7 linked regions of the Homo sapiens genome follow. The protein of the gene in region 1 purifies or fractionates together with the protein of each later gene. This does not show direct contact. Each region holds a gene or a part of one and is shown in the gene's direction. Other genes may lie near its edges.

The links.
Region 2: the proteins of ST8SIA4 (region 1) and RNASEL purify together in Homo sapiens (affinity purification with mass spectrometry; 2 studies listed by BioGRID and IntAct, with this or other methods). This does not show direct contact.
Region 3: the proteins of ST8SIA4 (region 1) and CACHD1 purify together in Homo sapiens (affinity purification with mass spectrometry; 2 studies listed by BioGRID and IntAct, with this or other methods). This does not show direct contact.
Region 4: the proteins of ST8SIA4 (region 1) and CELSR2 purify together in Homo sapiens (affinity purification with mass spectrometry; 2 studies listed by BioGRID and IntAct, with this or other methods). This does not show direct contact.
Region 5: the proteins of ST8SIA4 (region 1) and TCTN2 purify together in Homo sapiens (affinity purification with mass spectrometry; 2 studies listed by BioGRID and IntAct, with this or other methods). This does not show direct contact.
Region 6: the proteins of ST8SIA4 (region 1) and PLXNA1 purify together in Homo sapiens (affinity purification with mass spectrometry; 2 studies listed by BioGRID and IntAct, with this or other methods). This does not show direct contact.
Region 7: the proteins of ST8SIA4 (region 1) and MRC2 purify together in Homo sapiens (affinity purification with mass spectrometry; 2 studies listed by BioGRID and IntAct, with this or other methods). This does not show direct contact.

What each region holds. Positions count from the first base shown.
Region 1 is NC_000005.10:100,851,283-100,854,782, reverse strand, and holds part of ST8SIA4 (CMP-N-acetylneuraminate-poly-alpha-2,8-sialyltransferase isoform a precursor), read left to right. Parts: intron 1-3,500. UniProt on the Homo sapiens protein: Catalyzes the transfer of a sialic acid from a CMP-linked sialic acid donor onto a terminal alpha-2,3-, alpha-2,6-, or alpha-2,8-linked sialic acid of an N-linked glycan protein acceptor through alpha-2,8-linkages.
Region 2 is NC_000001.11:182,586,457-182,590,611, reverse strand, and holds the start of RNASEL (2-5A-dependent ribonuclease), read left to right. Parts: upstream 1-1,355; 5' UTR 1,356-1,445; intron 1,446-3,641; 5' UTR 3,642-3,805; coding exon 3,806-4,155.
Region 3 is NC_000001.11:64,473,129-64,476,628, forward strand, and holds part of CACHD1 (VWFA and cache domain-containing protein 1 isoform 1 precursor), read left to right. Parts: intron 1-3,500. UniProt on the Homo sapiens protein: May regulate voltage-dependent calcium channels.
Region 4 is NC_000001.11:109,256,039-109,259,538, forward strand, and holds part of CELSR2 (cadherin EGF LAG seven-pass G-type receptor 2 precursor), read left to right. Parts: intron 1-2,393; coding exon 2,394-3,041; intron 3,042-3,500. UniProt on the Homo sapiens protein: Receptor that may have an important role in cell/cell signaling during nervous system formation.
Region 5 is NC_000012.12:123,688,113-123,691,612, forward strand, and holds part of TCTN2 (tectonic-2 isoform 1 precursor), read left to right. Parts: coding exon 1-65; intron 66-2,420; coding exon 2,421-2,562; intron 2,563-3,500.
Region 6 is NC_000003.12:127,031,615-127,035,114, forward strand, and holds part of PLXNA1 (plexin-A1 precursor), read left to right. Parts: intron 1-772; coding exon 773-985; intron 986-1,071; coding exon 1,072-1,222; intron 1,223-2,307; coding exon 2,308-2,403; 3' UTR 2,404-3,500. UniProt on the Homo sapiens protein: Coreceptor for SEMA3A, SEMA3C, SEMA3F and SEMA6D. Necessary for signaling by class 3 semaphorins and subsequent remodeling of the cytoskeleton. Plays a role in axon guidance, invasive growth and cell migration.
Region 7 is NC_000017.11:62,630,670-62,634,169, forward strand, and holds part of MRC2 (C-type mannose receptor 2 precursor), read left to right. Parts: intron 1-3,500. UniProt on the Homo sapiens protein: May play a role as endocytotic lectin receptor displaying calcium-dependent lectin activity. Internalizes glycosylated ligands from the extracellular space for release in an endosomal compartment via clathrin-mediated endocytosis.

The sequences.
Region 1 (3,500 bases):
AGACTTAAAAATAGTTTCTTATACTGTAATAGGAACTGGGCTAAGGTATTTTTGTTTTGTTCCTGAGATAATTTCCTGCAAGGATTTACCATTTCCTGTTTAAATCTCTAGATAGTTTCTTGTATTGTATTATTTTGCACACAATTAAATTACATTCTTTTTTTGTTTTTTGTGTTTTGTTTTGTTTTGTTTTGTTTTTTGAGACAGAGTCTCACTCTGTTGCCCAGGCCGGAGTGCAGTGGTGCGATCTCGGCTCACTACAAGCTCTGCCTCCTGGGTTCACGCCGTTCTCCTGCCTCAGCCTCCCAAGTAGCTGGGACTACAGGTGCCCGCCACCACACCTGGCTAATTTTTTGTATTTTTAGTAGAGATGGGGTTTCACCGTCTTAGCCAGGATGGTCTCGATCTCCTGACTTCGTGATCCACCCACCTCGGCCTCCCAAAGTGCTGGAATTACATGCATGAGCCACCGTGCCTGGCCTAAATTGCATTCTTATAATTAGATCATGTTTACTCAACACACATTCTCTTGGTGGTTGACAGGAAGTTTCAACAAAATAAGATAAAAATACTGCATTTGGAGAGTAAGTCACCGCCTTTTTTTTTTAAGTTACAAATATCCCTGGTAATTACAATTTGACTCTTAAAAAAATGTGCATCTTAAGAAACTGTAACATTACAGTGCATTGTGTTAAGAACATGTCTGTTTTTGTTTGGGTATCATGTTACTCTGAAAAACACCTTAAAAAGATAATGTTTCCATCTTAAACATACACACACACACACACACACACACATACACACACACAAACACATTCCAGTGATAGCAGATTAAGTTTTAGAAAGAAATAATCTGAAGTAAGTCCTCCCTGACTATGGAAAACTAATGAGAAAACTTAAGATTACTCTGAATTAGTACCTTTGTTTCCTAGATTTTGGTTTATATTTCTCAATCCAATACCAAAACCAAAGCATGAAATAAGAGGAGTGACTGCAGTAGTGCATTTTCAGTAAGTTAGAATCCAGATAGTGTTATATATGATTAACAGTGAATACACATGGGTTTTTACAGATATTTTAAACATAAACTTTGCAGATTCTTTTAGTAATTTAACAAGACTCCTATCTTTTGTCCTATTCACTTTTATAACCATTATAAATATAAACTACTTCACTAATTCCTAACCATTTTATTCCAAAGAGCAACAAGGCCAAACTTCTGACCACTGGTGAAAGGAATGGTATGCTTTTTTTGGTTACTATGAATTAGGCATATTTTCTAAACTGATTTTGAATTCTGTAGAAATAACTTCTCTCTCCACCTTCCTGTTCACAAATCTACATATACCCTCTTAAAGTGTCAAGGTATTGAGTTCTAAACTGTGGCCAAGAATAATGAAAGTAGCTCTAGAGAGGCTTGTGACTTTTCAAATAGAATGGAAATTTGTACACATGGTGTACGTGTGAAAGGCAACTTCATTTATGGATTTTATTGAAACTAATACATTGATGTATGTAAGATAGCGTTTTGACCTAATGTGTGTACTTGCTGCTGGAACTGTAAATGAAAATAAGGAAGTGTGAGCGCTGATGAAACAAAAATGATTTTTGTGATATGAAAGCAAAGGCAAACTCCCCAAAGAACTATTCTTTAAGTAACTGTTTTACATCTCCTTTGACTTACCTCTCTGAAACCCTGTGGTTAATACAGTTCAGCAAAATAAGAAGTTTCATATCCTCTGTTGATTACTGGAGTTGGTTGCCTCTCATGAGCAATTAAAGCACCCAAGACACAGAATTTAGGGTGTGTATAATCATAATGTTAAAATGTGAAGGCTCTTCCAAGTACTGCAATTAAAATAAAAAGTTTCAGTGATTTGTAAAACAAGATTCCTGAACACAGTGAGGATCATTTAGATAGTTTTCATATGGTCAGACATCATTACTTAAACATTTTGCCCTCCAAAAACTGTGATTCCTTACTAACTTTAAAAACCTATTTAATTTTAGATTTTTCTAAAAGCTCTAAAGATGAAACCATCAGTCACAAAATTCAGATACTCTTAGGTATTGTTGTAATATATTGTCATTCTTTTGAAACCATATTCAGTAAAACAGAAGGAAAAGATATATAGGTAGATTCATAATTTAAAAAGAATCTTGAAAAATAGTAAGAGAGTAATCTAATGGGGACAAATCAGATATATAAATTGCAAGTTTAAGAGAATGTATGAAAGCATAAAATTGGTGTGGGATTGCCACTTTTTTACTGGTATTTCTTCAGAAGCCCCACACATGGGCTGCATTTTTCAAATTAACATTTTGTATTTTTTTTTTTTAATAAAGAATGGAGCAATTTTGGGCCCAGTGCAGTGGCTCATGCCTGTGATCCCAACACTTTGGGAGGCCAAGGTGCGTGGATTACCTGAGGTCAGGAGTTTGAGACGAGCCTGGCCAACATGGCGAAACCCCGCCTCTACTAAAAATACGAAAAAGAGCCAGATGTGGTGGCACACACCTGTAGTCCCCGCTACTTGGCAGGCTGAGGCAGGAGAATCACTTGAACCCAGGGAGGGAGAGGTTGCAGTGAGCCGAGCTCATGCTACTGCACTCCAGCCTGGATGACACAGTGATACTCCGTCTCAAAAAAAAAAAAAAAAAAAAAAAAGAAGAGTGGAGCAAATAAGATAGTAAGCATGAAGAGGGGATTTGGGGACTTCAAAGTCATTTAAAAATTTGGCTACAAAATGTAAAATAAAAGCTTCTTATTTATACAGTTCTAAGAAAATTATTAATATACAACTTAATATCTTAATAACCTGTTTAAATTAATGACAGTTTTATATAATATTTTAAATTATTATCTAAGACATAGCTCAAATACATTTTTATAAAATACTTAGAGTTAGGTAAAAATTCTTATTTTACAGTTACTTTAATTTGACTAGTAATAACCAAGTGTTGTTTTTACTTTGGTGGGATGATTATACTTAATTTTCTTACTTTTAATATGGGAAAAAAACAAACATTACAGAAAGTGTATCCTCAGTTTCAATATCAAACTATGACGAGAATTTCTTAAGAATCCTTCCAAAAAACCTATAGATAGACAGATAGATAGAGAAGCATATTTTAAAATTATGTTTTATATGCACAAACCTAAATATGTTTTTATTGTAGTAGCTCTACAACTCGAATCATATGTACTCTTTTGCACTTTATTTTTTAAATTAACATGACATTTTCTCAACAACACATAAATACAGCTTGTTTTTTTTAATAGGAAAGTATATTCCATTATATACTTTTCTATAATGTATTTAACCAATCTTGTTTGATGGACATTTGTAGTACTTCTCATTTGTTCTTGTTGTATATAATTTTATTTTGTTATTAAAAATATTTTAAATTATAGGAAAAATGAGAGGTAGGGAAAGGAAAGTAAATATACAATTCTGGTTAGCTGATTTTATAAACTAATAGTATATTTTAAAATATAA
Region 2 (4,155 bases), on another chromosome or scaffold:
GGTGCACAACACCACACCTGGCTACTTTTTGTATTTTTAGTAGAGACGCGGTTTCACCATGTTGGCCAGGCTGGTCTTGAACTCCTGAACTCAGGTGATCTGCCTGCCTTGGCCTCCCAAAGTGCTGGGATTACAGGTGTGAGCCACCACGCCTGTCCAACAAGTATTAATTAAATGAATAATGGGTTAAGGATTTTTGAACTTTGTCCTGAAAATGATGGTGGGTCAATGATGCAGGGTGGAACAATGGATGAAGGGCTAGGAAGCAAGTCATCAATTTCTTGCTATAAATGATGACAAGGACTCGAATGGTCATCCCTTTGTAGATGAAAGCAAGAGACTTGGTGTTGGGATGAGGATGAGGGGTGGCCTCCGGGTGATGGTGCCATCTGTGGAGATGGAATAAGTGGGAGGAGGGGCAGATTTAGGAAAAGATGAGTATTTCCATTTGACACATATTCAAGATTTGTAGGTCTAAAGCTCAGCAGAGAGGCTGGGGTTAGAGAGCGAGGCCTGGGAATCCCTGGTGTATAAGGGGTGGTAGAGGCCCCGGGTCTGGATGGTGTGACACAGGTGGTCGTCAAGTGACCATGCACTACTTGTTGTTCACAAGTCCCAGGGCTTTGTCTCCCCAGCAAGACTGGGTATTCTTTGGGGATGGAAATACTTTCCACTACAGCACTAAGTACACAGTACACAGCTCATTGCTAGGAAGATAGTCAAGAACAGAACTTGTAGAGCAGAAAGGAACCTTCAAAACCAAGTTATAGGAGAGAACTGAGGCCCTACATGGTTAAATCACATGCCTGAGGTCACTCAGCTAAGCAGCCACAGAGCTGGCTGTAGGATCAGGTCTCCAGACTGCCAGTCCGGTACCCTTCTGAGAAGGCCGCACTGCCTCAGAGCTGTGAGTTGAGTGAGCTGAGAAAGGTGACAGGGCTTGGGCTTTGGGCTTACTTAGCTTCTATGAGCCTGCGTTTCATAATCAACAAGATTGTCAGGGGTTAACTGGGACCATGCTGCATGTAAAGCATTGTGTCTGGAACACAATAGGTGCTCAATATGTGTTTACTTTCCATTCCTTTCTTCCAAGAAGACCAGAATTTGCAATGACAAAGAAAGGATGCAAGAGTGATGGATGCAGTTGGCTGCTGCCACCTGAAAGGCTGCAAGACTGAGAGGTGAGTGACATGACCCCGGGCATCACATTCCTCATCAGCAGACAGAAAGTGGCTATTGCTTTCCTCCAGAAGGTGTGCAAGTAGAAGCTTTGCTCCTGGTGCCAGAGTGAGCCTGTGGCTGCTTTCCCTCCCACACTCCTCACTCCTTTCTTGGCTCCGCCCTGCTGACTCAGTGACGCAGCAGGAGGAAACTGCTCGGGCTGCAAGCAGTCTTCCAGGCTTTGCGGCTGCCAAAGGAATAATTGAGACGTCTGAGTTGAGCAGGTAAGGCAGGCAGAAGGAGGAAAGCTAGAAAACCTCGATAAGTCGATCCTGAAGAATTCTTGGGCTTTGGAGACTGGAGAGGCCAGGGGCTGGAGGACTTGGGAAGTGGGAGGGGAGCTCCCAGCCCTTGGCTGCCCGGAAGGATCTTCCTCCAGTGCCCTTCCAGAGTTCTGTCAGAGTCCACACGTCATTTATCCATGTCCTCAGTTTCTCAGGCATCTCTTTGCGACTTACTCAGGTCGCACAGAGAAAGTGAAATTGAAAGCAGGATTGTCTGTTGGAGTACTTCCGCAGGCTCGTCTCTTCTCTACTCTGATGCGTCACTCAGGGCTTCCTTGATATTTCCTCTCCTTCCCGGCTCCTTTGTTTATACCAGCCCACCTCACATCTGATTGTAATGGGGACGGTCTACACAAACACTTTGGTTCAAAGATTTCATTGCCTGGTGATCGTGTATGTGTTGCACAATTAATTAAACTTCTAAGAGGCTAATCAATTAACCTCTGAGGCTTTGAAACTGTCAGAGTGGTGAGATTGCTGAAAAAGGGTTGCTTCGTGAATTCTATAGCAGATGCAGTTATTTAAATATTCAGGTAACAGTTTCGGGCTGTCTGATGATTGAACTGGATCTGTAATTCTCAGATCTGATTGACAGTTGGACGAAATTGATAGCTGCCAGTTGCCTATTCGTGTAGTAGCTATATGCACATGTGTAGGGAGAATAGAATTCACTAAGCAATTTATTTTTTCATAACGGGATATAATTAGCTCTAACATTCATTGAGTGGCTAATATTTGCAACACTCCATACTTTAATGTACTTTACACACATGACTGTATTTATTTTTGTCTCCATTTCAGGAAATAGAAAATTGAGATTCAACAATCCAAGGTTACAGGAAGTAATAGTAAAAAATTACACAGCCACAAGCTCAAACTTAGATCTCCCTAAGGTCAGAGTACAAGCTCTTTTCACTACTGCAGATACTCCTTGACTTATGATGGGGTTACATACAGATAAACCCATCCTAAATTGAAAATATTGTAGGTCAAAAGCACATTTAATACACCTAATCTACTGAACGTCATAGCTTATCCTAGCTTACCTTAAATGTGCTCAGAACACTTACATTAGGCTACAGTTGGGCAAAATCATCTAGCTCAAAGCTTATTTTATAATAAAGTGTTAAATGTCTCATGTATTTATCGAATGCTATGCTGAAATAAAAAACAGAATGGTTGTATGTGTACTTGAAGTGTGGTTTCTACTGAATGTTTATTGCTTTTCCACCACTGCAAAGTCAAAAAATCATAAATCAAAGTCAAAAAACATAAGTCAGATATTGTCTGTACTTTAAATAGGGGCACAGGGTTGTACAAAGAGGACATGCACAGAGTCAGCAAACACAGTGATCAACCTTCCTGGTGACATAAGAAATGCAAAGGGAAAAAAAGCCAAGAAATATATTTTTCTTATTGAATGAGGGTTCTTCTTTTTTTATTGATAAATAATTGATGTGCATATTTTCATGGTCTTTTTTTTTTTTTTTTGGAAGCCACCTATCTCTGGTAAGAATATATTTATATGACATTGAAAGCAATTTGTTAATATAGGTTAAGAATCCTAAATACAATCATATCTTTTGAATAGTCATTAAATTCTTTGAAGTCTATCATATGAAATCTATCATAAGATCTATCGAAAGAAAATAAACTAAAATAAGCTGAATTTGCTGCAACATCATTTAGATTTTTTAAATTTTTAATTTTAAAAAACCCTTTAAAACTTATTTTTGAAAACCACTCAGTAATAGAGAAATGAAACAACTGTATGATTTCATATTACATAGTCATGAAAAATGTTTTACAAGACTTTGCAATAACACAGGAAATGACTTATAGTATGGTATTAAATGAAAGGAAGTAGGATACAGTTACTTACAGAGTATAATTCCAAATGTCTTAAAAAATATATAGAAATACACTAAAATATTAACATTGGCTGTTTCTGGGCATTGGGACTAGAGAAATAATTTTCTTATTTTGAATTTACATATATTTATAATATTCTGTAATTTAAAAGTTTTATAAGAAATAAATATATGTATTTAGAAAAAATGCTAATATAATTAATTTCTCTGATTCAAGTGTTTTCTCCCTATTGTAAAATTACAAAGCACCTCTCTTCGTTGCCAGGTGGAATGTCAGAAGACTGAGAACATTGTTCCTTCTTCATACTGCTGCTCTGTTGCCAGAGAATCCCAATTTACACTCAAAGCTTCTTTGATTAAGTGCTAGGAGATAAATTTGCATTTTCTCAAGGAAAAGGCTAAAAGTGGTAGCAGGTGGCATTTACCGTCATGGAGAGCAGGGATCATAACAACCCCCAGGAGGGACCCACGTCCTCCAGCGGTAGAAGGGCTGCAGTGGAAGACAATCACTTGCTGATTAAAGCTGTTCAAAACGAAGATGTTGACCTGGTCCAGCAATTGCTGGAAGGTGGAGCCAATGTTAATTTCCAGGAAGAGGAAGGGGGCTGGACACCTCTGCATAACGCAGTACAAATGAGCAGGGAGGACATTGTGGAACTTCTGCTTCGTCATGGTGCTGACCCTGTTCTGAGGAAGAAGAATGGGGCCACGCCTTTTATCCTCGCAGCGATTGCGGGGAGCGTGAAGCTGCTGAAACTTTTCCTTTCTAAAGGAGCAGA
Region 3 (3,500 bases), on another chromosome or scaffold:
CTCATTGTGGAAACGGACCTCCTGTGGACAGGGTTTTGTCTGGCAAAATGTGAAGTGGCTTCTCTCCTTTTTTGAAAGGAGACACACATACTGTATTTAAATTCTGCTTCTTGAGCTGTACATTGATCTGCCACTTGCTTCTAACTGGGAAAATTGCAGAAAGTGTCTCTTTTTAATTTAGTTAGACTGGTCGGAAAAAAAAAAGTCGAATGCAGGTTAGATTTTTGGCCTTAGAACAAAGATTTTGAGCCCCACATTCTCATCTGTAAACCTTTGGGATTTGTTCAGTGGGTCTGAAATTATGTGGGTTTAGTTACCTAAAGTGTAGGTTATATAGCCCTCCCTGCAGCATGATGGATTTTATAGAGGTGGAGCTAATCTGTTTTTCAGAGGTAAGCCTCACATAGGCTTTAAGGTGTGACTTCCTACGAAGATGGTCAGGGTGGGGGTGGAGAGGGGGATAGTTGTGTCTCTTTGGAAAAGAATGTCTTCCCTTGCTTAAGGGATTGACTCCTTTCATTTGACCTTGGCATTTTGAGCATAGTACAGGCCTTTCAGGACACCATCTCACTTTATGAGAAACATTCTATAGGCCTCTTTATATGTAAAAAGCCAATGTTCAGACTTTTATATTGCTTCTGCTGCTGAAATTCTCGAAAGACGATTTTAAAGTTTGAGAAATTATAAAGTAGCCCTCAAACCAGGCCTGTTGTTTTGCAGCATTTCAAGTGGCAGCACTTACTGCTTATAAGGAGTTGCAAGGGGGTAATTTTACAAAAACAAAAACCTAGGCTTCTTTTAGCACTATAGTTTCCCATGACGTAGTTTTCGCACTTGCTGATAGAGAAGACAGTTTGAAAAGCGTCTACCTTGAAGATTTTCTTGGAAAATTCTCCAGTGGGGGCTGCCTACTCATGATTTTTGTTGTTCCTTTTTAATAATGGACAAAATATATTTTAAAAAATCTTTAAATAAGTTGTGCCAACCAATTTTGCCAGTACTCTGGGAAAGCTGTCACTGAATACTGTTCCCCTGACAGCAGACATCATACATCATGGATAAAAGTCAAAAACCTAATCATCATCTCCTCATGGGTCTGGTGCAGAGGAGCCATGGTGGCATTGAGGTCTGGGAGCAGTAAGTGGCTGTGTCCAGGGAGACGGGTTTTTGCCTATTTATTCATGCAACAAGTTTTTATCAAGCAGCATCGTGGAGTGGAAAGAGCCCCACATTGGGTAGGTAGAGACCTGGATTCCAGCTCTGCCATTTGCAAGTTGGGTGATTTTATCTGTAAAATTGAGGATGGTGATTCTTCCTCAAGATTTGCTCTGTGGACTTAAAGGAAATAGTGCATGTAAAGGCATCTGTTAATGTTAAGCCAGGGCTGAGAAATATTGATGGATGTGGTTGTTCTCAAATGGAGAAATGATTATTGGAAGCTTACTGAGCATGGAGCTCTATGCTGGGTATTCAGGGGATTTTACAAGGACGTATTCCAGCACAACTCCTTAAGGAGTTTACATTCTCGAGGAGGAGATAAGATTGCACAGGTAAACCAGCTAAGTAACAATGCCTGCTTGTTAGAAGGCATATCTGGCTCTGGGAGCCATTTCGCCAGGCACTTATAAGGCCCATTTAACATTATAGGACAGTACAGGCTTCCTAACAGCAAGGGCCTGGCACAAGGCCAGTGTGCCTGCCTTAAAGTTAGCCCAACTCTGCTGGGCTGGGCACACTTACTATGAACTTGGCAGACAGACCAGCAGGTTGGTCAGACAGCTGCTGGATGAGGCCTGGGAGGGAGGGAGGAGCAGGGTTTCTTCCAGTCAGGGCAGAAGAAATACCAGAAGCAAGAACTGGAGCTTCAACTCCAATTGAAGAAAAAGCAGCAGCTAGAACAGAGGCATGTTCAGGAACTGAAGGACTCAGCTGGGGCAGAAGTGTCAAAGATATAAAGCAATGTTGTAAATACTGACTACAGCTGGAATTAAAGAGCAACGCTTCTTTGTATGCAGTAAAACAACAATGCACTAAATTCCTTCCTTTTTTTTTTTTTTTTTTTCTTAAGAGACAGGATCTTTGCTCTGTCACCTAGGCTGGAGTGCAGTGATGTGATCATAGTTCACTGTAACCTCAAACTCCTGGGCTCAAGCAGTCCTCTTGAGTAGCTGAGACTACACACACATACCATCACACCCTGCTAATTTTGTAATTTTTTGTAGGGATGGAGTCTCACTCTGTTGGCCAGGCTGGTCTTGAACTCCTGGCCTCAAGTGATCCTCCCACCTTGGCTTCCCAAAGTTCTGGAATTACAGATGTGAGCTACTGTGCCTGTCCTGCATTATTCATTTTCGCATATATCCAACAAAATTTTGGGGAGCTTCTGCTCTATGAAGGGTCTTGGGTTAGATTTTATTTATTTATTTTTTATATTTTGAGATGGAGTCTTGCTCAGTCACCCAGGCTGGAGTGCAGTGGCGTGATCTCTGCTCACTGCAACCTCTGCCTACCGGGTTCACGCCATTCTCCTGCCTCAGCCTCCTGAGTAGCTGGGTCTACAGACGCCTGCCACGACACCCGGCTAATTTTTTTTGTATTTTTAGTAGAGACGGGGTTTCACCATGTTAGCCAGGATGGTCTCGATTTCCTGACCTCGTGATCCACCCGCCTCGGCCTCCCAAAGTGGGGTTAGATTAAACTGGCAATCACAGGTGACTAAAGCCTAGTCCATGCCCTTAATCTGTCAACTAATGATGGAAATAGACACAAAAAGAGGCATTATGATACAGGTGGTTAGCGAGAGACATAGAGGCATTACACTGCAGTAGGTTAGTGCAGTGGTAGAGAGAGAAACAGGATATTATGGGAGCATAGAGGAGCCTTGCCCAAGCCCCTCTGGTGAAGTCAAGGAAGTTAGCTACTTCTCCATTGTCCTTTTCAGTGAAATGTCCACACACACAGGCCAGTCCTGAAGGAAGCAGCAGCAGCAGCAGCAGCAGCAGCAGCTTCACACATGAAGGGTAGCCAAATCAGTAGTTCATTAGATGTTTCTGATTCCTTTGGTGGCACTGGACAAGGTAGCTCGTGTATCTTGAACACCTGAACAGGACTCTGACTCCTGTGCCCCTTCATATGGCTCCCATGTCTCATTTCTTTGGCCATTATCCTAGAGCTTCTGTGGTTATTGGACATAAATATCTTGCTGGCTCTATTATAACTGCAAGCTGATTTGCAGTCATGTTTGGTAAGATGTGTAATTTCCTCTAAATCACATGCATCATAACAGGACAGGGCTGGTTTAGAATGATTTGAATGTGTAATTACGCAATATAGAATATTTTCGAAGGAAAAATCACCTGTATATGCAAATAATGTGATTTGATTCTACGCCTTGTGTACCATATAAGCCTTAGTGGAAAAACTGCTGTGTTGCTTTCTTTTGAAAATGGATATTTAGAATAGAAGAAAACTGTCCATTGACGGATGACTCTGAGTTGAAC
Region 4 (3,500 bases), on another chromosome or scaffold:
ATCAGTTATGGGCACTGTGTGTGGAGTCTTGGGCTGCTTTCTGCCTGGAGGGAATATCCCGTCAAGGAATCATTAGGCAGATATACCAGGTATACAAGAGCTCTGTGCCAGCTGAGCATCCTGGTGCGGGGAAGTCTGAAACGGAGAGGAAAGTAGAGCCTGATGACATAAATCTGGGCAGGCTTCCTGGAGCAGGTGAGCTAGGGCAGGTTAGAAGACTCAGAGGACTGTGGGCTGGTGTCTGGGTGGGAAGGAACAGCCTGTGCAGCAGCTTTGAGACGAGAGCAGGAGGAACAGAAGTGGGTGATGACAAGCAGGCTTGCTGGTGAGAGCTAGTGAGAATAAGCAAGTGATGAGGCTGGAGGGTAGGTGGGCAGTCGGCTGAGGACATGGCTGAGATGGGGGTCTGCTTTCAGCCTTCCCGGCTTCAGCTGAGCCACCGCTGGTACAGTCAGCCACCGCAAGTAGGTACAACACAGATGCAGAATTTGTTCCCATGTCCCTTGCCTACTCCCACCCCACCCCAGAAACATGGGCTCCTGCCCCGTTACTGCTAGGGTAAGCATTTGCTTTTTATATCTAGTTGGGCTCCCCCTGCTATGTGGTTTTGTTTGTTTGTTTGGGACAGAGTCTCACTCTGTCACCCAGGCTGGAGTACAATGGCGCGATCTCGGCTCACTGCAACCTCTGCCTCCTGGGTTCAAGCAATTCTCCTGCCTCAGCCTCCTGAGTATCTGGGACCTCCTGAGTAGCTGAGATTACAGGCACCCACCACCACGCCCAACTAATTTTTGTATTTTTAGTAGAGACGGGGTTTCACCATGTTGGTCAGTCTGATCTCGAACTCCTGACCTCGTGATCCACCCGCCTCAGCCTCCCAAAGTTCTGGGACTACAGGCGTGAGCCACTGCGCCCGGCCCCCTGCTATGTTTTAAAGTCCGTTTATTCTTTGTGGAGACTGAATAGATTGTCATCCACATCTCAGTGTTTTCTGAACACCTACTATGTGTAAGGCATTGTAATAAATACAAATATGAATATGCCAGTAGCTCATGCCTGTAATCCCAGTGCTCTAGAAGGCTGAGATGGAGGATCACTTGAGGCCAGGAATTTGAGACCAGCCTGGACAACACAGCAAGACCCCATCTCTACACACAAACAAAAATTAGCCAGGCATAGTTGTGAGCACCTGTGGTCTCAGCTATTTGGGAGGTTGAGGTGGGAGGATCGCTTGAGCCCAGGAGTTCGAGGCTACAGTGAGCTATGATCGTGCCACTGCTCTCCAGTGTAGGCGACAGAGAGTCTGTCTCTTAAAAAAAAAAAAAAAAAGACTATCCCTTCTTGCCCTGTAAAGCCATTTCCTCCTTCTCCAGGCCCCAGCTTTCATTTTTTAGCTAAATAAAATTCATTCCCATGTGTATGTGCATTCAGGTGTGTATGGTATTTCTGGGCTTAGGGTGTGTGGGTGGAATGAGACACCAGCAAGTGTGTTTTAGTGCTTAGCTGTTTATAAGTGAGTGTGTTGCCTGGGGGCATAGCAGGCATTTGGGTGTAATGGTTGAGCCAAGTGGGTGATGAGTAGCTAGAGGCCCTAGGACCAGAGAAGAGACTGACTCAGTGGGGCTCTGGGGTCTCAGAGTGGAGAGCTGCCCAGGCCCTTCTATCTCTGCCTTCCGGTCCCCCACCCCGACTCACCCTGTCTCCAGCATGGGGCAGTGGGTGATGATGTCACTGGTTAACGTGGCTCAGCTGGATTTCCTGGGGTGGGGCCCCCCAGGCTACCCACAGCAGCCCAGAGAGTTGGGCGGGAAGAATGCTTTGTGTTGGATGTTGCCATGGGGATAGCAGGTCTGCGCGCCCAAGCAGCCATGGGGCTCAGTGGGAGGGGGACTAGGTGGCCCACTGACCCAGTTTACCCACTCCCCCCCACCCCCGCCAACTCCCTGCTGCTGTGGGGGAGTGGGGAACACAGCCATGGTTGCGATTATCGTGGTGTTGAGGTGTAGAGGCTGAGGGGGCAGGGGGATGATTTTTGTGGGTCTCAGGATGCTCTGGGCCCTGTAGAAAAGTATGAAAAAGACAACATAGGGTTCCCGCGCAGGCAGCACAGACTCTGGGGGAAGGGAGCAGGAGCGGTGGCTTGGGCAGGGAAAGGTGCACAAACATTAAGAGGTGTGCCGTGCATCAGCGACAGAAGGTTTTGGGAAAGGATGCAAAGAGAACTGCAAATCTCATCCCCTGAGCCCTGAAGGAGTGATTGGCCCACACGTGACATACCTGGCTCAGCACCCTTATGCCAGTTGGAAAGGAGAGCCTTTCTTGGTGGGTGGTGCAGGAATATGCAGGCTGAATTGCAGCCCCAGGCTGGGTCCTGACTGTGTCCCTCTCCACAGACGGCGTACACAGCGTGACCGCCCAGTGCGCGCTGCGTGTGACCATCATCACCGATGAGATGCTCACCCACAGCATCACGCTGCGCCTGGAGGACATGTCACCCGAGCGCTTCCTGTCACCACTGCTAGGCCTCTTCATCCAGGCGGTGGCCGCCACGCTGGCCACGCCACCGGACCACGTGGTGGTCTTCAACGTACAGCGGGACACCGACGCCCCCGGGGGCCACATCCTCAACGTGAGCCTGTCGGTGGGCCAGCCGCCAGGGCCCGGGGGCGGGCCGCCCTTCCTGCCCTCTGAGGACCTGCAGGAGCGCCTATACCTCAACCGCAGCCTGCTGACGGCCATCTCGGCACAGCGCGTGCTGCCCTTCGACGACAACATCTGCCTGCGGGAGCCCTGCGAGAACTACATGCGCTGCGTGTCGGTGCTGCGCTTCGACTCCTCCGCGCCCTTCATCGCCTCCTCCTCCGTGCTCTTCCGGCCCATCCACCCCGTCGGAGGGCTGCGCTGCCGCTGCCCGCCCGGCTTCACGGGTGACTACTGCGAGACCGAGGTGGACCTCTGCTACTCGCGGCCCTGTGGCCCCCACGGGCGCTGCCGCAGCCGCGAGGGCGGCTACACCTGCCTCTGTCGTGATGGCTACACGGGTGAGCCAAGGGAGGGGACTCATGGGCCAGCCCTGGAAGGCTGACTGTGTGGTGCAGGCACAAATCAGGACAAATGCTGGCGGCTGCCTCATTCTCTTCCCGAGTGAGGTGCAGCTACACTGAGAGGTCATAAATCCGGCCTGCTCCCTGACAGCACCCCACTGAGGAAGGCAGTGCAAGGAGTGCTTCTCCCTGCTGTGCACAGGACACACAGGCAGTGCCATTGTGGGCAGAGCTGGCTCCAGAGCCAGTCGGCCTGTGTTCGTGTATCAGCTTTGCCGCTAGTAGCTGTGTGACCTTGAACAAGTTACTTAACCTTTCTGGCCCTCGGTTATTTGAAATGGAGATAATGACCGTACTTAGGTCATAAGTTGGTTGTGAGGATTAATGTAATTAATTTGATACTTGGAAACAGCTGGTGGCATGGAAGGTGTTGGCCTTGATTTAAGGGAACGCTGA
Region 5 (3,500 bases), on another chromosome or scaffold:
ACTTTGGTTACAAACAAGGAGATCCCATTATGACTGTAAAGAAGGCATATTTTACTATTCCGCAGGTAATCGTTGCAATATTAGTATGCTAGACCGTTCTCTTTTTTTTTTTTTTTTTTATGAGACGGAGTCTCGCTCTTACCTCCTAGGCTCAAGTGCAGTGCCAGATCTCGGCTCACTGCAACCTCTGCCTCCCGGGTTCAAGTGATTCTCCTGCCTCAGCCTCCCCAGTAGCTGGGACTACAGGTGTGTGCCACCGCACCCAGCCAATTTTTTGTATTTTTAGTACAGACGGGGTTTCACCATGTTGACCTGGATGATCTCGATCTCTTGACCCTGTGATCCTAGTGCCTCAGCCTCCCAAAGTGCTGGGATTACAGGCATGAGCCACCATGCCTGGCCACTAGACCCTTCTTTTATTTTTCCTGTCCTATTGTTAATTTAAGTCATATTTCTCTTTAAAATCTCTTTTTAAGTTACTTACTTTCCTCCTTTCTACCTTTCAGGGACTTAACTGTTTATGTTCTCCAAATTAATAAAATATATAGTCACTCTTAATCACTGTCTTTGCTTAAAACTCAGAGTGAACTTACAAAATAAAACCAAAAGATTTTCTATAAGTTTCCATGGAAGTACCTATCATTCTTTTTCTTTTTTTTTGAGACAGAGTTTCGCTGTTTTTGCCCAGGCTGGAGTGTAATGGCACAATCTCAGCTCACCGCAACCTCTGCCTCCCGGGTTCAAGCGATTCTCCTGCCTCAGCTTTCCCAAGTAGCTGGGATTACAGGCATGCACCACCACGCCCAGCTAATTTTGTATTTTTAGTAGAGACGGGGTTTCTCCATGTTGGTCAGGCTGGTCTCGAATTCCTGACCTCAGGTGATCTGCCTGCCTCAGCCTCCCAAAGTGCTGGGATTACAGGCATGAGTCTTTTTTTTTTTTAAATTAAAAAAATTTGTTTTGGTTTGAGACATAGTCTTGCTCTGTCACCTAGGGTGGAGTGCACTGGCGTGATCTCAACTCCCTGCAGCCCTGACCTCCCACATTCAAGTGATCCTCCTACCTCAGCTTCCCAAGTAGCTGAGACTACAGGCACATGCCACCATTCCTGGCTAATTTTTTGTAGAGGTGGGGTTTTGCCATGTTGCCCAGGCTGGTCTTTTTAACTTCTGGGCTGAAGTGACCTGCCCACTTTGGCCTCCCAATGTGCTGGGATTACAGGCTTGAGCCACCGCGCCCAGCCAAAAATTTTTCTGTAGAGATGGGGGTTTCACTATGTTGCCCAGGCGGGTCTTAAACTCCTGGCCTCGAAATTCTTCTGCCTTGGCCAAAGTGTTGGGATTACAGTGTGAGCCTTGATGCCTGGCTAGCAGTAACTATCATTCTTTGCTTCTTTTTCTTTTTATATTTTTATTTTAGGTTCAGGGCTACATGAGCAGGTTTGTTATATAGGTAAACTTGTGTCATGGGGTTTTGTTGTACAGATTATTTGTCACCCAGGTACTAAGCCAAGTACCCAATAGTTTTTTTCTGATCCTCTCCCTCCTCCTACTCACTACCCTCAAGTAGGGTCCGGTATAAAAAACAATGGTTAGATAAATACATCATTTTATTTACCATTCTAGAATTTTGAAAAATATTTTAAGGCTGTAAGGTTGTATATGGAATCATTTGTATATCTATATATGAATGCACAAGTGAATGAATGACAGGGTCTTGCTCTGTCGCCCAGGCTGGAGTGTAGTGAGTGTAGTCACAGCTCACTGCAGCCTCCATCTCATGGGCTCAAGCAATCCTCCCACCTCAGCCTCCCAAGTAGCTGGGACTATAGGTGCATGCCATTATACCCGGTTAATTTTTTACTTTTTGTAGAGACAGGGTCTTGCTATGTTGCCCAGGTTGGTCTTGAACTCCTGGGCTCAAATGATTCTCCCACTACAGCCTTCCAAAATGATGGGATTACAGGTGTGAGCCACTGCTCCCAACCTGAAATCTTTTTTTAAGTTCAACATTATGAGGAGTGTTATTTGTGGGAAGAAAGCATGGGAGGTGAAAATTTCTCTTTCCTATTCATATGAATCCATTTTTATGGTATTAAACTCTGGTTGTGATGAGGGAGAGAACATGAAGTTAAATATAGTCATGTCTCTGCAAACTAAATAGAACAGGACAAGGGATTTTCTTTGTTTTTATTAGACAATATTTACTGTGACTCCACAACCAGTGGCTTCCAGACCTTGATGGGCAAATCAGTTAGATGTTTTGCTAAAGCGGGTCAACTAGTCGGTGAACTTGCCGTTGCTGAAACCAGACCAGCAATGGGAGCAGGCTGCAGAAAGACCAGTTTTAAGGGATGCTGATCTGTTTTGTATGATTAGGAGAGAGGCCATAAATCTGTTGGCTTTGCCCTTCTCCCTCAGGTGTCCCTGGCTGGGCAGTGTATGCAGAACGCCCCAGTGGCATTTCTTCACAATTTTGATGTTAAATGCGTTACTAATTTGGAACTATACCAAGAACGAGATGGTATTATCAATGCGAAGATAAAGAATGTTGCCTTAGGAGGTATGTTACATTTCTTTGAAAAAAGAACACAGGCCCAAACATGAATATAAAGTATGATCTCATGAGAGTATAAATCATTTCTACTGGTTCAACTTCAAATAATATTTGAACTGCCAATTATTTTCTTTGGAAAAAGTTTAGTTCCGTAAGACAGCATATTGCATATTAATTATTTTGAAATTGAAGTAAAATTCAAATAACATAAATTTAGCCTTTTTGTTTGTTTCTCCGTCACGCAGGTTGGAGTGCAGTGGCGTGATCTCGGCTCACTGTACCCTCTGCCTCCTAAGTTCAAGCGATTCTCCTGCCTCAGCTTCCCGAGTAGCTGGGACTACAGGTGCCTGCCACCATGACTGGCTAATTTTTGTGTTTTTGGTAAAGATGGGGTTTCACTGTGTTGGCCAGGTTGACCTTGAACTCCTGACCTCAGGTGATCCACTCTCCTAGGCCTCCCAAAGTGCTGGGATTACAGGTGTAAGCCATCGCGTCCCACCAGAATTAACCCTTTTAAAGTGTACAATTCATTGACATTAGTACCTTCCACACTGTTGTGCCACCATCACCTCTCTCTAGTTCCAGAACGTTTCATCGCCTCAGAAGGGCATCTGTACCCATTAGCAGTCACTCCCTACCCCTCTTCCCTCAGCTCCTGGCAGCCACCAATCTGCTTTCTGTCTCCGTGGATTGCTTATTCTGGGTGTTCCCTAGAAACAGAATCATACACTATGTGGCCTTTTGTGTCTGGCTTCTTTCACTGAGCATGGTGTTCCATGGTTCATCCGTGTTTGTAGTGTGTGGCAGCACTTCATTCCTTTTTATGGCTGAATCATAGTCCATTGCATGGACAGAGCACATTGTGTTTGTCCATTCCTCAGTTGATGGACATGTGGGTTGTTTTCATCTCTGACTGTTGTGAATAGTGCTGCCATGAACACTCG
Region 6 (3,500 bases), on another chromosome or scaffold:
GCTTCCCAAACCTGGGATGCAGCCACCCCAACCTGTCCCAGCTCCGCCCACTGCTCGCGGAGTCTAGGATTTAAATGAAGTGTCACGAAGCCCCTCTCCTGGGCCATGCTGATTGGGCACAGCGGGAGGTGGGGCCTCCAGGGACGCAGTGTCTCCAGGTCAGCATGTTCTTGGAGAATGTTCTGTCACAGTGGAACATTCTAGACCCGTGCTGTCCAGGGTGGTGGCTCCTGAGCCTTTGAAATGGCACTGGTGTGGCTGAGTGTCTGGGCTCTTCACTTCATTTAAGTTAAGCAGCCACGTGTGGCCAGTGCTGCCAGGCAGCCCAGCTAATGGCAGTCCCTGAGGTGGTGTTTGGGGCACAGAGGGCTGGTCTCTGCAGGAATGGGTCCCCTGGGCCGGAGCTGAGCTGCAGGTCTCAGTGCAGGAGCCATGAGTGCAAGCCAGCATGCAGGCCTAGGAGGGTGGTGGCTGTGTGGAGTGGGCCCCTGAGGGCCTGGTCACATCTTGCCCTTGTGCAAACGAGTGCGTTTGAGCACGCCTATCTCATGATGCTCTGCGTGAGATGCAGGTGGTGGGGGCAGCACATCTCTGGTTGGGTGGCAGGGGACGGCCTTCACTTAACCATGGGCCCTGCACCTCTGTGGGCCTCGTTTCCCCGTCTGCATGGAAAGCCATGCCCACTTTGGATTCGGAGCTGGGAGGGCCACAAGGTCACTGCTCAGGAGGGAGCAGAGGCCTATCTGAGCAGCGCCTGGACTCTCGCCTGCAGCCTGCCCCTGCGCTTCTGGGTGAACGTGATCAAGAACCCACAGTTTGTGTTCGACATTCACAAGAACAGCATCACGGACGCCTGCTTGTCGGTGGTGGCCCAGACCTTCATGGACTCCTGCTCCACCTCTGAGCACAAGCTGGGCAAGGACTCACCCTCCAACAAGCTGCTCTACGCCAAGGACATCCCCAACTACAAGAGCTGGGTGGAGAGGTAGGTGGAGGGTGCAGGGGTCGGGGGCAGGGGCCCGGGGGCAGCCTGGACTCTGCTCATGTGCCCACCTGGCCACTCACCTGCAGGTACTATGCAGACATCGCCAAGATGCCAGCCATCAGCGACCAGGACATGAGTGCGTATCTGGCTGAGCAGTCCCGCCTGCACCTGAGCCAGTTCAACAGCATGAGCGCCTTGCACGAGATCTACTCCTACATCACCAAGTACAAGGATGAGGTGAACACCGTGGGAGCCCACAGGCTGGGCTAGGAGGGCTTGCCGGCCCCTGCCAGAGTCACCTGCTCTGCCCCGCCCTGCCACTCCTCCCTGAATCTCTGGGCTGCCACTGACCACCTTCACTCCTCTGCACCCTCTGGCCACCTGGTTCCTTGGGGCCAGGAGGGAGCCTGCCAGGCCGAGCAGAGAAGGCCGTGGTGGAGTCACTGTGTGCAGCCATGTGGGGTCAGGGGTGGGGAAGATGGGATGGCAGCTTCTTCCTGAGGCAGAGGGTGTGTGGGTGGTGAGCAACTTCCCTGAGGGGCTCATTTCAGGGTTTTCTAGTCTGGGCCAGCATCTCCAGGGCTGGGCATAGGCTCTTGGCAGAGCTTTCCTTTCAGTATCTTTTCTGCTGACTTGGAGTGAGGCCACGTACATGGACCTGGGGACGGGGTCCAGGAGGTATCCAGGAAGGAGAACTGGCTCCTGGGCCGCACAGGATGGGAGCACGGGGCCAGAGGGCAGGACAGTCTCGGCCTGTGCCAAGGCTCTGAGGGCTAAGAAGGCCACGGGAGTGAACCAGAGCCACCCTGGGGAGGCCAGGGCAGGTGCAGCAGAGGCAAGGAACCTTCCCCAGGGTGCCACAGGAGGCAGACAGGAGGCAGAGGGCTGTCCTCAGGCAGGTGCCCCAGGGGAGCAGAGGAGCAGCCAGAGACTGCATGTATTAGGGTGGGGAGTGGGGACAAAAGCCTGGGGTCCTGGGGCTCACCAGGGAAAGGGGAGCTGAGGCTCTCTGGGGAGCTCTGCTTTAAAGGGGCACAGAAACCCCAGGGTGTGAGGACTGGGTGGGGACATGTCAGCAGCATGGCCAGGCAGCCAAGGGATCAGAGCCTGCTGTTTTAGGGGGTGAGAGTAGGATGATGACAGGGGCAGGGCTCATTCTCCATATTGGGGTCCTGGAGGGTCCAGGCTCACAACCAAGGTCCTTTGGCCAGGGGTAGATGGGGTTGAACCTCTGGCACCTACTCTGGAGGCATCTGCCCTGGGCCTGCTGAGTGCATGGAGGCTGGTGGCCCGGCATGCTGACAGTTCTCCTGGCCCTGCAGATCCTGGCAGCCCTGGAGAAGGATGAGCAGGCGCGGCGGCAGCGGCTGCGGAGCAAGCTGGAGCAGGTGGTGGACACGATGGCCCTGAGCAGCTGAGCCCCAGCTGTGATCATCCAGCATGATGCAGCGTGAGGACAGCTGAGCAGGGACCGGGACAGCCCTCACCGCATGCGTGTGGAGTGTCCGGTGGTGCTCGGGCCGCCGCAGTGCAGCGACTGCCCGGCCCTCCCTCCCCTGCCTCACCCGGTCGGGTCCCGGCTCTTCCTGTGTGGAGGTGATGGTACCTGCCACACCACAGCTGCGCACACAGCTGCTTGCTCAGGGGCCGGGACAGCACTGGGTGCTCAGGCTGGCCAAGGACCTTCATTGCCTGGCAAGAGCTGCCCAGTGGCCTTCATGGGAGAAGGGCTGACCTCTGAGGGGCTGAGGGGTGAGGCCAGGGCCCTCCAGGGGGAGGGGTAGCCAGCTTGGGCTGTCCCCTTGAGACCAGGACAAGAGGCTGGGGGTGTCAGCATTCCCAGCTTTCCAAGCTGCCCCCAGGCGGCAGAGTCTGAGGGTCCCGGGGCCCGGTTGGCAGCTGGAGAAAGAGGCAAAAAGCCCGTAGCCGGGCAAGAGGAGCTCAAGTCGGTCTGGGCCCGTTGCCACCGACTCCCACCTCCAGCACCCATGCCCGCTGCACCGCTGCCATCCTCAGATTCACCGCGTGCTCTGCGCGGCCGAGGCCGGAGCACCACATCCACCTCGCCCCAGAGAGGCTCTGCTCCCTCCTATGGAGGGGCTGTGGGCCAGGCTGCTCAGACTCCTGGGTGGCTTCCAGACGGACCGGGCAGCCCCTCTCCGTCCTCAGGGCTGTGCCTCTGGGAGCCACTGGGCCAGGGGCCCCGGGTCGCAGAGAGCACGTTCCCGTTATTTATTCCCCTCCGCGTCCTACACAGGCTGCCCTGGCAGCTGTCTTCAAGGGTAGGCTGAGCTCCCCACCCTGGAGCCCCTGAGGGCGGCCCCTGAGCACTCCTCTCTCTCCACTCTCTCTGTCCCTGCCCCAGCGGCTTCCAGTGTGGCATCTCAGCAGTGTCCTGGCCCCTCCAGAGCAGTGGGACATCTGGGGACTGTTTTTGTGTTTAGGGGAAAAAATTCTGCTGCACTCTGCTTGGGCCTTGAGGTCTGTGGCAGGGCTCCTCTGGCCCGCAGTGGCC
Region 7 (3,500 bases), on another chromosome or scaffold:
GGGAAAGGGGCTTCTGGGAGCTCCAGGGATCAAGTCTCAAGGCCATGGGGTGAGGAGACCTCAGGAAATCTTCCTGTGGGGAAGGTCGGTGCTGCCTAAAGGACAGGGAGGGTGGCATCGGGTACTTGGGGCTCTGACCAGAGTCAGCCAGACCAGCTCCCTACACTTCTGGCCCAGCTTCTGCTGAGTCGTGGGGTTCGGAAACTTCTTACTGTTCCCCCACGCAAAACTCAGTTTTCCTTGCTCCAACCCTCTGGCTCTCTGTGAGTCATCAGGGCCCAGGAGGTGCCCAGCCGAGCTGTGGCTAGTGCTGGGATCCTGGCTCTCTTCTGGGTTCACCTGGGCAAGGTGAGGGTACATGGAGGGGAGGAAGAACCCCGGGTTTTGGCCCCCATTTTTCGCACCAGAGAAATCCTGGCTTTCTGATGCACGTAGGGCACCGTGACTTGGCTCAATGAGATGATTTCGGAAGTGCCATGCAGTTCTCAGGCAGATATTCATTTGAGTTCCTCATCAGTTTAAGCATCGAGGAGGAGTCCTGTTGCACTGTCCATACCCCCAGAGGGATGGAGCGATGGCACCCACGGCTGCGCTGTGCATGTGGTGGGCGCCGTGCTGGGTCCTGTGCTGGCAGTAGCTCTTCGGCACCTCCCATCTCTGAGCAGGTGTCAGAGATTTGCACACACCTGGCGTGAAAATGTTAAAGATGTTAAGGGAGTCACTCAAGGCTGTGCCACCACACCACTAGAAGGTGTTACCAGTGAGATTCGAACCCAGGAGTGGTTACGGAGCCTGAACGCTCCAGTACCATACAGCGTTTCCATCGCATGAAGCACTGTCAGTGTGTGTGTGTTAGGAAAGCCTGGGAAATTCTGCCTTATGTGTTCTCCCCGCCCCCATAACTCCAAGCCCTCTAGGACACCTCTCAATGTGTCCCACCGGGAGGACTCCTGAGGAGGAGGGTGGAGCGAGCAGCCCTCTGTCACATGTCAGCGGTCTGGGCGCTTGGGTCAGCCACTTCCTTGTGGGTCCAGGAGGCCTGGACCGAGCCGCCTGCAGTGTCCTCAGGATCTCTGAGGGACCCCCTCCAAGAAGGCATTGATAAGTGAGTGACTCAAGGTGCCCCAGCATGGCACTCCAGCTTCCCTGAGGTCAAGGATTCACATGGTTGTTCATTCATTCATTCATTCCTTCAGTGGGTGTCTGCTGAGCTCCTGCAGAACTGAAGTAGAGATGGCCATGGCCTATTCTTTATTTGAGACCTCCCCACCGTGTCTCCAGTGGGGGTCCCTGGACTTGGAAGGCCTGAGCACTGCTGATAGGAAGCGTGTCTTCCTGTTCAGGCCTACGTGAGATGGGAGGGGGCCGCTTTCCCACGCCTGGGTCCTGTGAATCTGGGTGGGGTGGGCCAGTGGGGTGGTGACGCGCTCCTGGAGCTCACCCTGGGCCCTGCAGATCTGTCACTCTTCAGCTAGGGGTTGTACCAGTAAACGGCAGCTGGATGAGGGCTGTCCAGTGGCACCTGTGACACCGGGGTCTGCCGGGGTCCACCAGCTGCAGCCCTTTAGGAAACAGATTGGGTCGACCCCCTCAACTGCACACTGTGGCCCCTCGTGGAATTCCACCGGTTGTTTCCCTTCTTGCACTTCCCCCTGGCCCCTCGTCTCTCCTTCCGCCGCTGGGCACCAGCCTCTTGGCTCTGCACTCTCACAGCGCAGACCCTTCCACCTGCGCTCTGCTCCCCTCAGCCTCCCACTCCTCCTGATTTCTCTTTCTCTGACTGTGCATTCTGCCCTCCGCAGCTCTGGTTTTTGTTGTAGAAGAAGGACCAACTTCTTCCTAGTTTCCCCGGCCCCCCATGCCTCTGGTCTCTTGTCCTGCCCCAGCTTTCTCCACCTCCAGGCTTCTGCCCACGCACGATCACTTTGCCTGGTGTGCCTCCCCTCCCCTCTTCTTTCCCACCTTCCAGTGACCCTTCCTTCGAGACTCAAGGATCCTGGGGAGGACGCTGAGGGAGCCTGGTCCCTGCCTCTTGGGCTGACCTGGGGTGACGAGAGACAAGCACACAGACATGGCCCATGGTGACAAATCCCAGATTGGATGGGTGGCCTCTCTGTTTATCTCCTTCCCAGGGATCACCTCAGGAGGGCACATGTAGGGAACACTATAGCCAGCCTTCCTCAGCCTTCCCCAGCCTTCCCTGAAGGCAGCCGGGTGCGAGGCTGAGCAGTGGCCCCTTCCTCCTGTAGATGAGGCAGGAGTGTGGGCATGGCTGGCAGTGTTTCCCCCCGTCAGTCCTCTGGAAATGTAAATAGGGACAGAGTCGGTGGGACCAGGATTGATGGCACTCACCAGCTATGTGACCTCAGGCAGAGGCTCAAGTGTCTTCATTTATAAGATGGGAAAAATCAATACCTCTTGTAGAGGTATTATAAGATTACATACAAATGAGATCATGAACGTATGAGATATGTCCCTGGTACACTACTGGGCACAGAATAATTTCTTAGCAAACAATACTAAATTATTGCTATTTTTATTAGAAGAGAAAGGGTGGGTGAGGTGGCTCATGCCTGTAATCCCAGCACTTTGGGAGGCCGAGGCGGGTGGATCATGAAGTCAGGAGATCGAGATCATCCTGGCTAACACGGTGAAACCCCATCTCTACTAAAAATACAAAAAATTAGCTGGGTGTGATGTGGGGGCGCCTGTAGTCCCAGCTACTCAGGAGGCTGAGGCAGGGGAATTGCTTGAACCCAGGAGGCGGAGATTGCAGTGAGCCAAGATCATGCCACTGCACTGCAGCCTGGGCAACAGAGCGGGACTCCGTCTCAAAAAAAAAAAAAAAAAAAAGAGAAAACATGACTATCAAGGTTCCCAAATATGATAAAACACAGTCTTCAATATACAAAATCCTGCTGGACACGGTGGCCCATGCCTGTAATCCTGGCTTGAGCCCAGGAGTTCAAGACCAACTTGGGCAACATGACGAAACCCAGTCACTACAGAAAAAAAAAAAAAAAAAGCTGGGTGTCCTGGCTCATTCCTGTAGTCCCAGCTACTGGGCAGGCTGAGATGGGAGGATTGCTTGAGCACAGGAGGTTGAGGCTGTAGTGAGCCACGATTGCATCATTGCATTCCAGCCTGAGTGACAGAGTGAGACCCTGTCTCAAAAAAAAAAAAAAAAAAAAAAAAAAAAAAAAAAAAAAAAAATCCTAACTACAGCTGTCACCAGAAAGGAGGTCCAATCCAGACCCCAAGAGAGGGAACTCACGCAAGAAAGAATTTGAGGCGAATCCATAGGGAATAGTGAAAGCAGGCTTAATAGGAAAGTAAAGGAATAAAGAATGGCTACTCCATAGGCAGAGGAGTAGCACTGACGGCTCAGCTGCTTATACAATTGTTACTTCTTGATGATATGCTAAACAAGGGGTGGATTATTCATGAGTTTTCTGGGAAAGGGGTGGGCAATTCCCGGAACTGAGGGAGTCTTCCCTTTT